3 linked regions of the Homo sapiens genome follow. The protein of the gene in region 2 purifies or fractionates together with the protein of the main gene of each other region. This does not show direct contact. Each region holds a gene or a part of one and is shown on either strand. Other genes may lie near its edges.

Region 1 (3,655 bases), on a different chromosome or scaffold from region 2:
ATTTTGTGTTGCCTATATTAAATCCATTTCCCCAATATATCTAGACTGCTGCCAACTAGAGTTAATAAATTTTGAATGACTGCTCAGGATTTATTCCCTTTATTTTTATATTCTGTTATTTCCTTATACAATAGAGTATGAATGAAAACAAGTATCTACAAGACCAGTATTTCTTCAATTTTCACCTTGTGAAAGCTGGGTATTAAAATAAAAATAAATTAAACTCTTGGGCTGGGAACTCCCTGACCATATTTCTCTCACTGTGCTGGGTGTCTCTACGCCCCCTTTCAATCTTGAGTACATATAGTCAATAGGCACTGCATGCACTGGGGGAGCACCTGGCCCATCAAGGGCCTTTCCCAGAGGAAGTAATGAATAAAGAACAGATGAAGAGCTGAGTAGTGGTTCCTGACCTGCCAGCAAGAGAGGAGGGGCAGCATTTTAGATTTGAGTCATCTCCACTGGAGTCTGCCAGTAATCAGTTGTGTGACTTTAAGCATATCAATTAGAAACAGAAAGCTTGGCATCCCGAAAAGAAAACCATTCCTTCAATTTTCTACCAATTTCTCTGCTGAAATGGTACTTATTTGTAACACAGTACCTTAAAATGAGTCCGCAGGGAACTGGAAAATGTTATTTTTTTGAAGTTTTACACATTCAGTATACTTTGCATCAGTAATAAAAGTATATTAGTAAAAGTATACTCAAGTATAGGATATTACGAATTGAATTTCAGCAAGACTTGAATTTTACTCCTCATTATTTATCCAAAAAGGAAAAAAGATCCGAGGATTTGTAAGTGACGTGACCAAACTCCAAAGGCTGTTAGCGGTATCCGCATATTCAGGATGCAAATCACTCTCTAGTCAACTGCACTTGCTACTAAACTGTGATTCACTGGCTGTTAGTGGTATCCGCATATTCAGGATGCAACACCCTCTCTAGTCAACTGCTCTTTCCACTAAACTGTGATTCACTGGGTGCCGATTTCTTCATCTCAAGAGGTGATGATTACCCCCTTTGTAATACTACCTATCTCATAGGACTATGAAGACTAAAGAAAATAAGGTATACAAGAGCATTTAACAAATTTACCATACCACTTCATACTATTGTGGAGAGGGCCAAGAGACAAGAAATCTGGTAGCATTTAAAGTGCTAAGAGCACAAAATAGAAGTGTTATAAGGTCATCTCACCAGCCAGATCTATACTTTAGCTTGATTATACAATAAAAGCATTGACCTTGCCACTCTCCAAAACTATCAGCGCAAGCTACAATGCCCCCTCACACTGGCAATTTACCATGAGATTTCTAATCAATAATCAAAACATTGTATTGTATACTTCCTGCTCTGAACAACAGGTACCAAAATTTCAGCAGCCAGGTAGGTTGGAGTTCACAATCAGGCAGCCTAGAATTACACTCAGCCCACAAATATGTTTTGATCAACATAATTTTTAATGGCAAATTTTTAAACTAAATACATTAAAATCCACGACATGCAGTGGCTCACACCTGTAATCCCAACAATTTGGGAGGCCATGGCAGGAGTATCATTTGAAGGCAGGAGTTCAAGACCAGCCTAGGCAACATAGATAGACACCATCTCTACAAAATTTTTTTAAAAATTAGGCCGGGCGCAGTGGCTCACGCCTGTAGTCCCAGCACTTTGGGAGGCCAAGGCAGGTGGATCACCTGAGGTCGGGAGTTCGAGACCAGCCTGACCAACATGCAGAAACCCCGCCTCTACTAAAAATACAAAATTAGCCAGGCGTGGTGGCGCATACCTGTAATCCCAGCTACTCAGGAGGCTGAGGCAGGAGAATTGCTTGAACCCAGGAGGTGGAGGTTGCAGTGAGTCAAGATCGCGCCATTGCACTCCAGCCTGGGCAACAAGAGCGAAACTCCTTCCCACAAAAAAAATAAAAGCAACAACTAGCTAGTACATGGCCGGATGCAATGGCTCACCCCTGTAATCCCAGCACTTTGAGAGCCTGAAGCAGGCGGATCACTTGAGGTCAAGAGTTCAAGACCAGCCTGGCCAACACGGCAAAACCCTGTCTCTACTAAAAATACAAAAATTAGCTGGGCGTGGTGATGGGCACCTGTAGTCCCAGCTACTCAGGAGGCTGAGGCAAGAGAATCGCTTGAACCCGGGAGGCGGACATTGCAGTGAGCCAAGGTCATGCCACTGCACTCCAGCCTGGGCAACAAGAGCGAGACTTTGTCTCAAAAAAAGAAAAAAAAAAAAAACTAGCTACACATAGTGGCATGCGCCTGTAGTCCTAGCTATTGGGGAGGCAGAGGTGGGAGGATCACTTGAGCCCAGAATTCAAGGCTGTAGTGAGCTATTACCACGAAACTGCACTCTAGCCTGATAGGACGATACCCTGTCTCTAAAAGTTAAATAAATAAATAAGAATAAATTAAAATCCAGATTTCCAGCATCTTTTCCAAAAAGTGTCAAAAGATCCAAGGACACTGGGCCCACTTCCTCACATGGCAACAAGCAAGTGGAGCTGAGCAGCAACTGCTCCCTTTAGTTTGGGCCCGTGCTCTCCAGTTCATCAAGGCCCAGCCTACTCATCCTAGTACATAACAGGCATCGGACTTGGAGACCACTGAGGAAGATGCTCAAACAGAACAATAATAATAATTTAATGAAGATTTGTTTACTCTTTTTTGGCCAGTTTTTTGTGGCTCTATCACACATTAGCTCTGTGACTCTTAAGTAACATATTTAACCACTAAGCCTCTTAAATTTAACACAAGCTGAAATATGCTGACTTCTGAGTCAAAAAACTTCACAAAAACTTCGAACTCACAGAAACAAGTCAGGGCACCTCCCATAGGGAAAAAACGTAATGTGGCCACGAATGGTGGCTCACGCCTGTAATCCCAGCACTTTGAGAGCCCGAGGCAGGCAGATCACTTGAGGTCAGGAGTTTGAGACCAGCCTGGCCAACACAGCAAAACCCCGTTTCTACTAAAAACACAAAAATTGGCCAGGCGTGGTGGCACCTGCCTATAGTCCCAGCTACTTGGGAGGCTGAGGCAAGAGAATCTCTTGAACCCAGGAGGCAGAGGTTGCAGTCAGCCAAGATCATGCCACTGCACTCCACCCTGGGTGATAGAGCAAGACTGTCTCAAAAAAAAAAAAAAAAACAAGTAACGTGACAGAAGTCCTTGTCATATAATAATTTGACATCTACAACTGCGTCCGTAACAGTAAGGCCTATACATCAGAATAACAGATTGCCAGCAAATTATCTTAGGCTGAATCATATAAATCCACTCAACTGCAAAAGTTTCTGAAGTCTTCAGGTATAAGTCAATAAGCAAAACAAGCTCCCCCACCAAAAAAGAAAAACATTTAAAGTAACAGATAAGGCTATGAGCTCCTTTAGTGCAAAGGCCACTTCCATTCCTCGTGATCCCTCCTGTCTCACAATGACTGGCACACTGAAGCTACAGCTCAAGGGCAAGTTTCTCTCTGAAGCCTTTCCAGAGGGTCCGCATCCACATCACAAAGAACAAGCAACATGGTGTAGTAATGAAGAGTGCCGATCTCAGTGTTCAGCAGATAATCCCCTCTATCTTACAGCTCTACCAGCAGCATAAACTCAAGGAAGTTATTCAAGGTCTCTGTGCCC
Region 2 (3,655 bases):
TTCTATATTTTGGGTTGGCTCATGTTCTAAACTGGAATTTATTTATAATTATGTTGAAAACATATAATAGATAGAACTCCAGGACTGGAACATTCTTTTTTCTGTTCTTGCTCTTTACCAACGTGAGTTCTTCAATTCCCAGTTCATCTCCAAAATGCATATCTCCAACCCAAACATCTCCTAATCTTCAGACTCACTTATCAAGCTGCCTAATTTTTTTTTGTAGAAACAGGGTCTCCCTGTGTTGCCCAGGCTGGTCTTGACCTCCTGAGCTCAAGCTATCCTCCCACCTCAGCCTCCCAAAGTGCTGGGATTATAGGCATGAGCCACCACACCCCACCCCAGCTGCCTAATTGATATCACCACTTCCATCTCACAGATATCTCAAACTTTGTATGTCCTTTAAATTCTTTGAATAGCTGGATCCTGTTCATTCTTTAGGTCTCATACATCCCAGAGAAGGCTTCCCTGTCCACACTGTCTAACGTAGGTCTCTCTTGTCCTTCTGTATCTCGGATTTTTTTCAAAGCACACGTCATAATTTGTAATTATTCATAGTTTATTTGCCAGTATACTTTTTGCCTCTCCCACTAGACTGTAAGCTTCATGGGGCCTAAGACTCTGTTTTATTCACCATTGCATCCTCAGATTTTGCAGTGTCTGGCACATAGTTAAGTATTCAATAAATACTTAGTCAGTTCATCATCCCCCAAAAGAACATTCCAGGAAGTCCTTTATTTACTGTAGTTAAATGAATCCAAGTGTAACGCTGCACTGAATTCTAGCTATTTATGTACCAGATACTGGAAACACCCTCTATACTTGTTTTGTTTTTATCTTTGGAGGATTCTTAAAATCATATTGAAGTCTTCTGCTATTGTAAATTTTATGGTTAAAGAAAATAATTTTCTTCTTTGGTAATGTAATCAATGCTAATTAAATTTCTTTATTTCCAGGATGGAAGGTTAACATTTCATCCAGGAAGTCAGGTAGTGAAACTTCCTTTTATCAACTTTATGAAGACACGTGGGACTTCCTTTCTGAATGCCTACACAAACTCTCCAATTTGTTGCCCATCACGCGCAGGTATGAACATCCTTAATATGAATGGGAGAAAGTGGCTACACACTGAAAATATATTCACAGTTTAAAAGATTATACCTAAAAGTAGAATAGTTGTATTTGGCCTCAATAAAATTGTTTTAATATAAAAGATGTGCATTTTAAGGTATATATTGGCTATTGGGGTTGTTCAAATTGTATTTTTCAAGAGTAGGAATTTTTATCATTTAGAAAGGTGTCTAGTTCATGTGTTACCGTTTTATTTCCTTGTGACTGGGGACTAAGAATCTTTTGGCCATCCAAGAAAATGAGGGAATACTCATATTTCCTAGAAGAGTTCTGTTTCCAGGGAAATTTTTCAGTAACGGTATAGGTAATTGGGAGGACTTCTATGAACATTAGAGTATACCATAAAGTAGTTACAACTTATATTCAGATTTACCTGAATTTTTTCTTATTATTTCAGATTACATACTTTACCTCTTTCTTTCCGTCTCAATTCACTTTTATCCCAAGTCAAATTGTTCACTTTTATTATAATAATTTAACAAATAGGCATAGTTTTATTGGCAGAATGTCAGTGACATTAAGCCATGAATAATTAACAAATAGGAAAAAACTGCCATTTTTATAAATTCTATCTATTGTCTGATGGTTGTTTTCCTTTTCCCCTGTCTTCTGGTTTATGTTTGTTGCCTTGGAACACATAAATGGCACTCAGTGATTTGGTTTGTCTGTAAATGAGATGATTTTCTCTGTGATTTGAGTTATAACTTCTTTCACCTATATTTTCAACACTAACAACTATATTATTACCAGTGATGAAAAGAAACTAAACTATATTGTAAATGATATTTCAATAATGAAGGACCAGGCATATTAAAAAACAGTTTTGTTAACTGTAAAGTAGAATGAGCAGTGGGCTAGGGTGAGACAATGACCTGGATGCTAATCCTCAAGCAAGTCACTCAGTCTTCTTATCTGCAAATTGCTGTGTATACTGTGTACCTCACAGGGTTGTTCTGAGCATCACATTAAATAACGAATGAGAAAGTGGCCAATGAACCCTAGATGTCTCAAAATGTTAGATGTTGTTTTTCCTGGAAGAAGTATATTTTGAAGAGTAAGCAAGGTCAAATAATTTGTCAAAGACCACTCAGTAACTGGTGTTATTGGGATTCAAACCCAGGTAATCCCCCATCCCACCTCTCAGAAAACATCTTGCTAGATGAAAACAGAAAGCTTATTCTAACTTTCTATTTATGTACACAGAAATGGGAAAAGGAAAAAAAGTGTTTATTGAATAAACAATCATAGTTGTAGAAAGTGAGAGATAAGGCATAACACACTACGTTTTTTGTGGAAAGCCAGCAAAAGGACAGGGAATAAGGGAAGATCCTTAAGGATGTTGGGGAAATGAGATCTGTACTTCAATTGTCTGATTTAGAAAATTAACCAATAAATACTTAGGGATTGTTTTTATGATTGAAAGAGGCCTCTAGTCACACATGCTTTGTATTTAATTCCAGCTGTATTTACCTTAAGTAACTTAAGCACTAAGCGTTAGTCAACTCATCTGTAAAATGGAAATAGTAACTCCCCACAGAGTATCACTCTGATAAAATGAGGTAACAATCAGAAATGTTTGGTAAGGCACCTAATCTGGGTACGTCTTACTGCAGAGCATAAGCTCTTCACTAGTGGACTGCTCTCTCAGAGTAATTGTCCTAATAGTTAAATTGTTAAGCTTTACCTTAATCCCAATTCCTTTTTTTTTTTTTCTCAGCAATGTGGAGTGGCCTCTTCACTCACTTAACAGAATCTTGGAATAATTTTAAGGGTCTAGATCCAAATTATACAACATGGATGGATGTCATGGAGAGGCATGGCTACCGAACACAGAAATTTGGGAAACTGGACTATACTTCAGGACATCACTCCATTAGGTAAAAATAAAACAAAAATAATCATCATGGACTGCCCTCTGCCATAGCGTGTACATGTACTCTTTTTGACTTTAATTTTTTTATTTTTCCACAAAGGTGAAAGTAAATCTCTTAATCCCTTCATTGTGTTAATTAGGCTGAAATTTTAGCTTTCTTTCATCTTCCTAAAACATTAAAATGGCTAATATACTAGTCATTTTGTTTTTCTTAAGCATTAAAGGTCTATAAATAGTGTTTGTAAACTCGTTTAGCCCACGCTTTATTTTCATTGAATTTCCTTTAATGGCTACTGTATTATTAATTTTAAAATCTGTTTTTAAAACCATAGCCTTCTTGCTGCTTTCGTTGGTCAGTTCTCTCTAACTTGAGTCTATTGTAACTTTTTTTTTTCTTTCATTTTACTAAGTCCTCAAAAACCAGGCAGCCAAGCATAGTGGTTAAGAGTAGAGGTCAAGAATCAGATTGCCTGCTTTTGAATTATAGTTTCTGTTTACTACTAGCATTGTAGTAGTCTGATCTTGGACACATTGTCTAAATGTTGACACTGTACTTTAATTTCTTTGCTGTGAGGATTAAATGTATCAATAAGTTCAGAAAAGAGCTAACATAGGAGGCCTGAGACTGCTCTCCTTAGAAAGGCCTGCTTG
Region 3 (3,655 bases), on a different chromosome or scaffold from region 2:
AAATTAAAAATATTCATCAAGTTTAAACTAAAAGAAGCAGTAGGCTAATACACACTGAACTGGGGGTGGGGGTACACATGATTCTCTCTTAGCCACATTTTCAACCAGCTTTATGTTCTTGAAGTGTAATGACTCACTCTCAACTTGAGTGGCTCTAATTCTGTGGGATTACTAGCATGCAACCATCACTAACCCTATGAAAGCGATTGGTATAAAGTCCCATGCAAAGCATACAAACCCAATAAAAAACAGGCCATTCTTCCTTGGCAAGACACTCATCTGGGTGATGAGTCATCTAAGATGGAGGGTGACAGCAGGAAAAAATGTTAGGGTTTGCCTTCTACCCTCAAGATGGGCCTGAAGAGTATCACCCTGTAGTCGGGCACTTCATCATTTCTCAAAGGAGTCCGCATAGAACAGTGAATAGTATGAGTGACATCAACTTTCATATGCCATGCTTGCCCTGGTTTATAAGGAAACTATACACACACATTTATAAATAAGGAAATATAAGCTCTTTAGCTCTTACATATTAGCTAATATATACATTAGCGCTTATAAAAGATGACAGGACAACCCACCATAGGGATTGTTTGCAAATGCTGGGGATAAATTAGAGAAGGAACAAAATGAGGAAGTACCTTGGAAGAAGCTCATGTTTGACTGTTTTCAGATGCAACAGAGAATTTTCTGCTTCTTCAAATTTAAAAATTTCCACTGTATTCTTGAATTCTGGGTGGTTTACAACAAAGAGATAAACTGTGTCATCTAAAGAATTGAAAGAACAGAGTTAATTTACAAGACATAACTACGGGACCTCTGGGCAGGCACTGACATTTAAATACCACAGGCAAGGAAAGGTTGAATGTATAAGCTGTTAGACGACCTAACAGATCATTCTCTGTCTTTCCTATTGCTGTCCGTCTGGTGTTATTTCTGATCATTGGCTCCCTGACCTTTAAGAAAGTGTTTCCTACTCCATATACAGAATTCATGCATAATCTGTTTCTACTTTAATTCAAAAATACAGTTCTTTTTTAAATGTGATGATCGTAGGTATATGAAAAGATTATGAAATCTAAACATTCTTTCAGGTGTTACCTGTTAGGAATTTCAAAATGTAGCATAACTTACTGCCAGCTGAAGAGGCAAATGAACAAGTTCTTTGTAATGAAGAATACAGAAATCACTCATGAGTTAATTGTTCTTCTCTTCCTAGAAATATGATCCAAATCTATTTTTCACAGTCATTTGTGAACCATCACACGTTACTAAATGTTGGTAGCCCATTGGCTCTTACCGTTGTCTATGAAAGTGCTGATGCCATGTGGATTGAATGAGGCCAAATCAAACCCACGACTGATTCTTAATTCCCGTGCCCTTGGTTTTTCTTCTTTTAGATCCATCATTAGTATTCCTCCAGGCTTATCTGGTGCAAAGCTGTGGAGTCCTGGGAATTTTAGACCCTTTCCAAAACGGTGAAAAATGTTAAATACAAAAGCTTAAGTATTTTTATGGACTAACATGGGAACTGTACATGAAGGATAAATAGAGATTGTGGTTAAAGTAGTGGCATAAAGCCACAAAAACTCAAAAAACAGAGAAAAGATAACAGAAAAAATAATAACGGGGAGGTGGAATACTGAAAGCCTGAAAATAACTGAAAAGAAGATCAGGGATTTATTCTCTTCAGAGAGTAATCAGAAGGTTGGTGGACTAGGTGATTCCAGGGAGAGCTGAGGGTGGAGAAAAGTGACATCTACATACTGACTGTGGAAATTTGTTCACTGCTAGATCCCAGTGCCTGGAACAGTGCCTGGCATACAGTCCATCCTTCTCCCACTGATTCAAAATATCACCTTTATCATGTGCTAGATCTCTGACATTTACATATTGGTCTATTTAGGGACTCTCTGTTTTGTTATTTTAATGTCTCATGTCTATTCCTGTGCCAATATAACACTTTTTAAATTACTACAGCTTTAGGTCAGGCCTGGTGGCTCATGCCTATAATTCCAGCACTTTGGGAGGCTGACGTGGGAGGACTGCTTGAGGCCAGCAGTTTGAGACCAGCCTGGGCAACATAGCAAGACTCTGTCTCTACAAAAAAAAAAAAAAAAAAAAAAAAAAAAATTAGCTGAGTGTTATGGTGAGCACTTGTAGTCCTAGCTGCTCGGAAGGCTGAGGTGGAAGGACCTCTTGAGCGCAGGAGTTTAGGAGTTCAGGCTGCAGTGAGCTATGATTGCACTACTGCACATCAGCCTGGGCAATTGAGCCAGTCCCTGCTTCTCTAATGACAGTTTTGTCTTTTTCTTTTCTATCTCACATTTCTTTTTCTCGTTTTACTGAATTACTAAGAACTCTAGTAGATTACTGATGGTTGTGGTGTTGGGTATTTTCTTCCTGTTCTGAGCATTAATGCAAATGCAGCCAATGCTTCACCATCAAGAATGATGTTTGCTGTAGTTTTGTGGGAATTTTCCTTATCTTTCTAGTTTGCTTGGAACTTTAGGAATGAGTATTGAATTTTATTAAATGCTTTTTGGTACTCACTGAGATGATATAGGTCTTTTCTCTTTTAAATCAGTTAATAAATTACCTATCAGTCTATCTAAAATGGTGATTCATCATTACATTCTTAAGGTAAAGCCTTCTTGGTGATGTTAAATTTTATGTGAATGCACTACCTAATTCAGTTTACTAATACGATGCAGTCATATTTACACAAATTTAGGCACACAATAAAAAAGTCTTACTTTATGTATAAAATTGGACATAAGAGGAAATCTCTCCAATTAAAAAAGATTATCTACAATTGTATATTTTCATGGAGGGCAAGCCTGGTAAGTAGAACAAACTGGAATTATGCTATTGTTACATGGCAGTGCCACTTCAGTTAATCCCTATTCTTTATGAATGTCCCCAAAACAAAAGCATGATTTACATGCAAAGGAAGCACTATCAGATGGTGATAACTAGTCATGGTTATGTTCGCACTCCTTATTTATTTAAGTATTTTTTCTCTTTTTAAAAATTTATTTTTAATTATGATAAAATACATACAACATTCATCACTTTCACCATTTTTAAGTGTACAGTTCAGTGGTGTTAAGCACACTCACATTGTTTACATTTTTTATATTTTATTCTATGTCATCCAATTCTTCATGAAGTGTGACATTAGTTTTGAGGTGACCCTCAACCCATAACTGTAAAATAGGTTGGGTTAGATGAGCTAAAATGCTAGGAAGAAGAATGAACAACCTCCACAATGTAGGACCTCTTTATTTAGAAGAGAGTACACTCTAGGTTTTATTAGAGACAATGCCAAGTAAATGAAAAACAGCAGCAAACTGGGAATGTTTCTAAATTTTAAAAAAAGTCAAATGAGCAAAGGAGGGTAACAGAAAAAAAGCAGAAAAAGTTCTATTGATATGGCTATAAGATCTTTGTAACTATAACATGCCCCCAAGCTAAAATGGCTGTAGATTTATGTGTTTGGAGACCTCATCCCTCCTACTTCAGATTTATTACTATGGGGGCTGGAGAGAAATCTTGAAATAGGTGAATTCTAGATTATAAAAATCTCCAAGAACACATCCTTGCAAAACAACAACAAAAAACACAAATAAACAAATAAAAAAATCAATGCAAC

The links.
Region 1: the proteins of ARSK (region 2) and MAPKAP1 fractionate together in Homo sapiens (co-fractionation; one large-scale study listed by BioGRID). This does not show direct contact.
Region 3: the proteins of ARSK (region 2) and PON2 purify together in Homo sapiens (affinity purification with mass spectrometry; 3 studies listed by BioGRID and IntAct, with this or other methods). This does not show direct contact.

What each region holds. Positions count from the first base shown.
Region 1 is NC_000009.12:125,700,620-125,704,274, forward strand, and holds part of MAPKAP1 (target of rapamycin complex 2 subunit MAPKAP1), read right to left. Parts: intron 1-3,655. UniProt on the Homo sapiens protein: Component of the mechanistic target of rapamycin complex 2 (mTORC2), which transduces signals from growth factors to pathways involved in proliferation, cytoskeletal organization, lipogenesis and anabolic output.
Region 2 is NC_000005.10:95,565,042-95,568,696, forward strand, and holds part of ARSK (arylsulfatase K precursor), read left to right. Parts: intron 1-956; coding exon 957-1,086; intron 1,087-2,848; coding exon 2,849-3,008; intron 3,009-3,655. UniProt on the Homo sapiens protein: Catalyzes the hydrolysis of pseudosubstrates such as p-nitrocatechol sulfate and p-nitrophenyl sulfate. Catalyzes the hydrolysis of the 2-sulfate groups of the 2-O-sulfo-D-glucuronate residues of chondroitin sulfate, heparin and heparitin sulfate.
Region 3 is NC_000007.14:95,411,012-95,414,666, forward strand, and holds part of PON2 (serum paraoxonase/arylesterase 2), read right to left. Parts: intron 1,467-3,655; coding exon 1,301-1,466; intron 769-1,300; coding exon 642-768; intron 1-641. UniProt on the Homo sapiens protein: Capable of hydrolyzing lactones and a number of aromatic carboxylic acid esters. Has antioxidant activity. Is not associated with high density lipoprotein.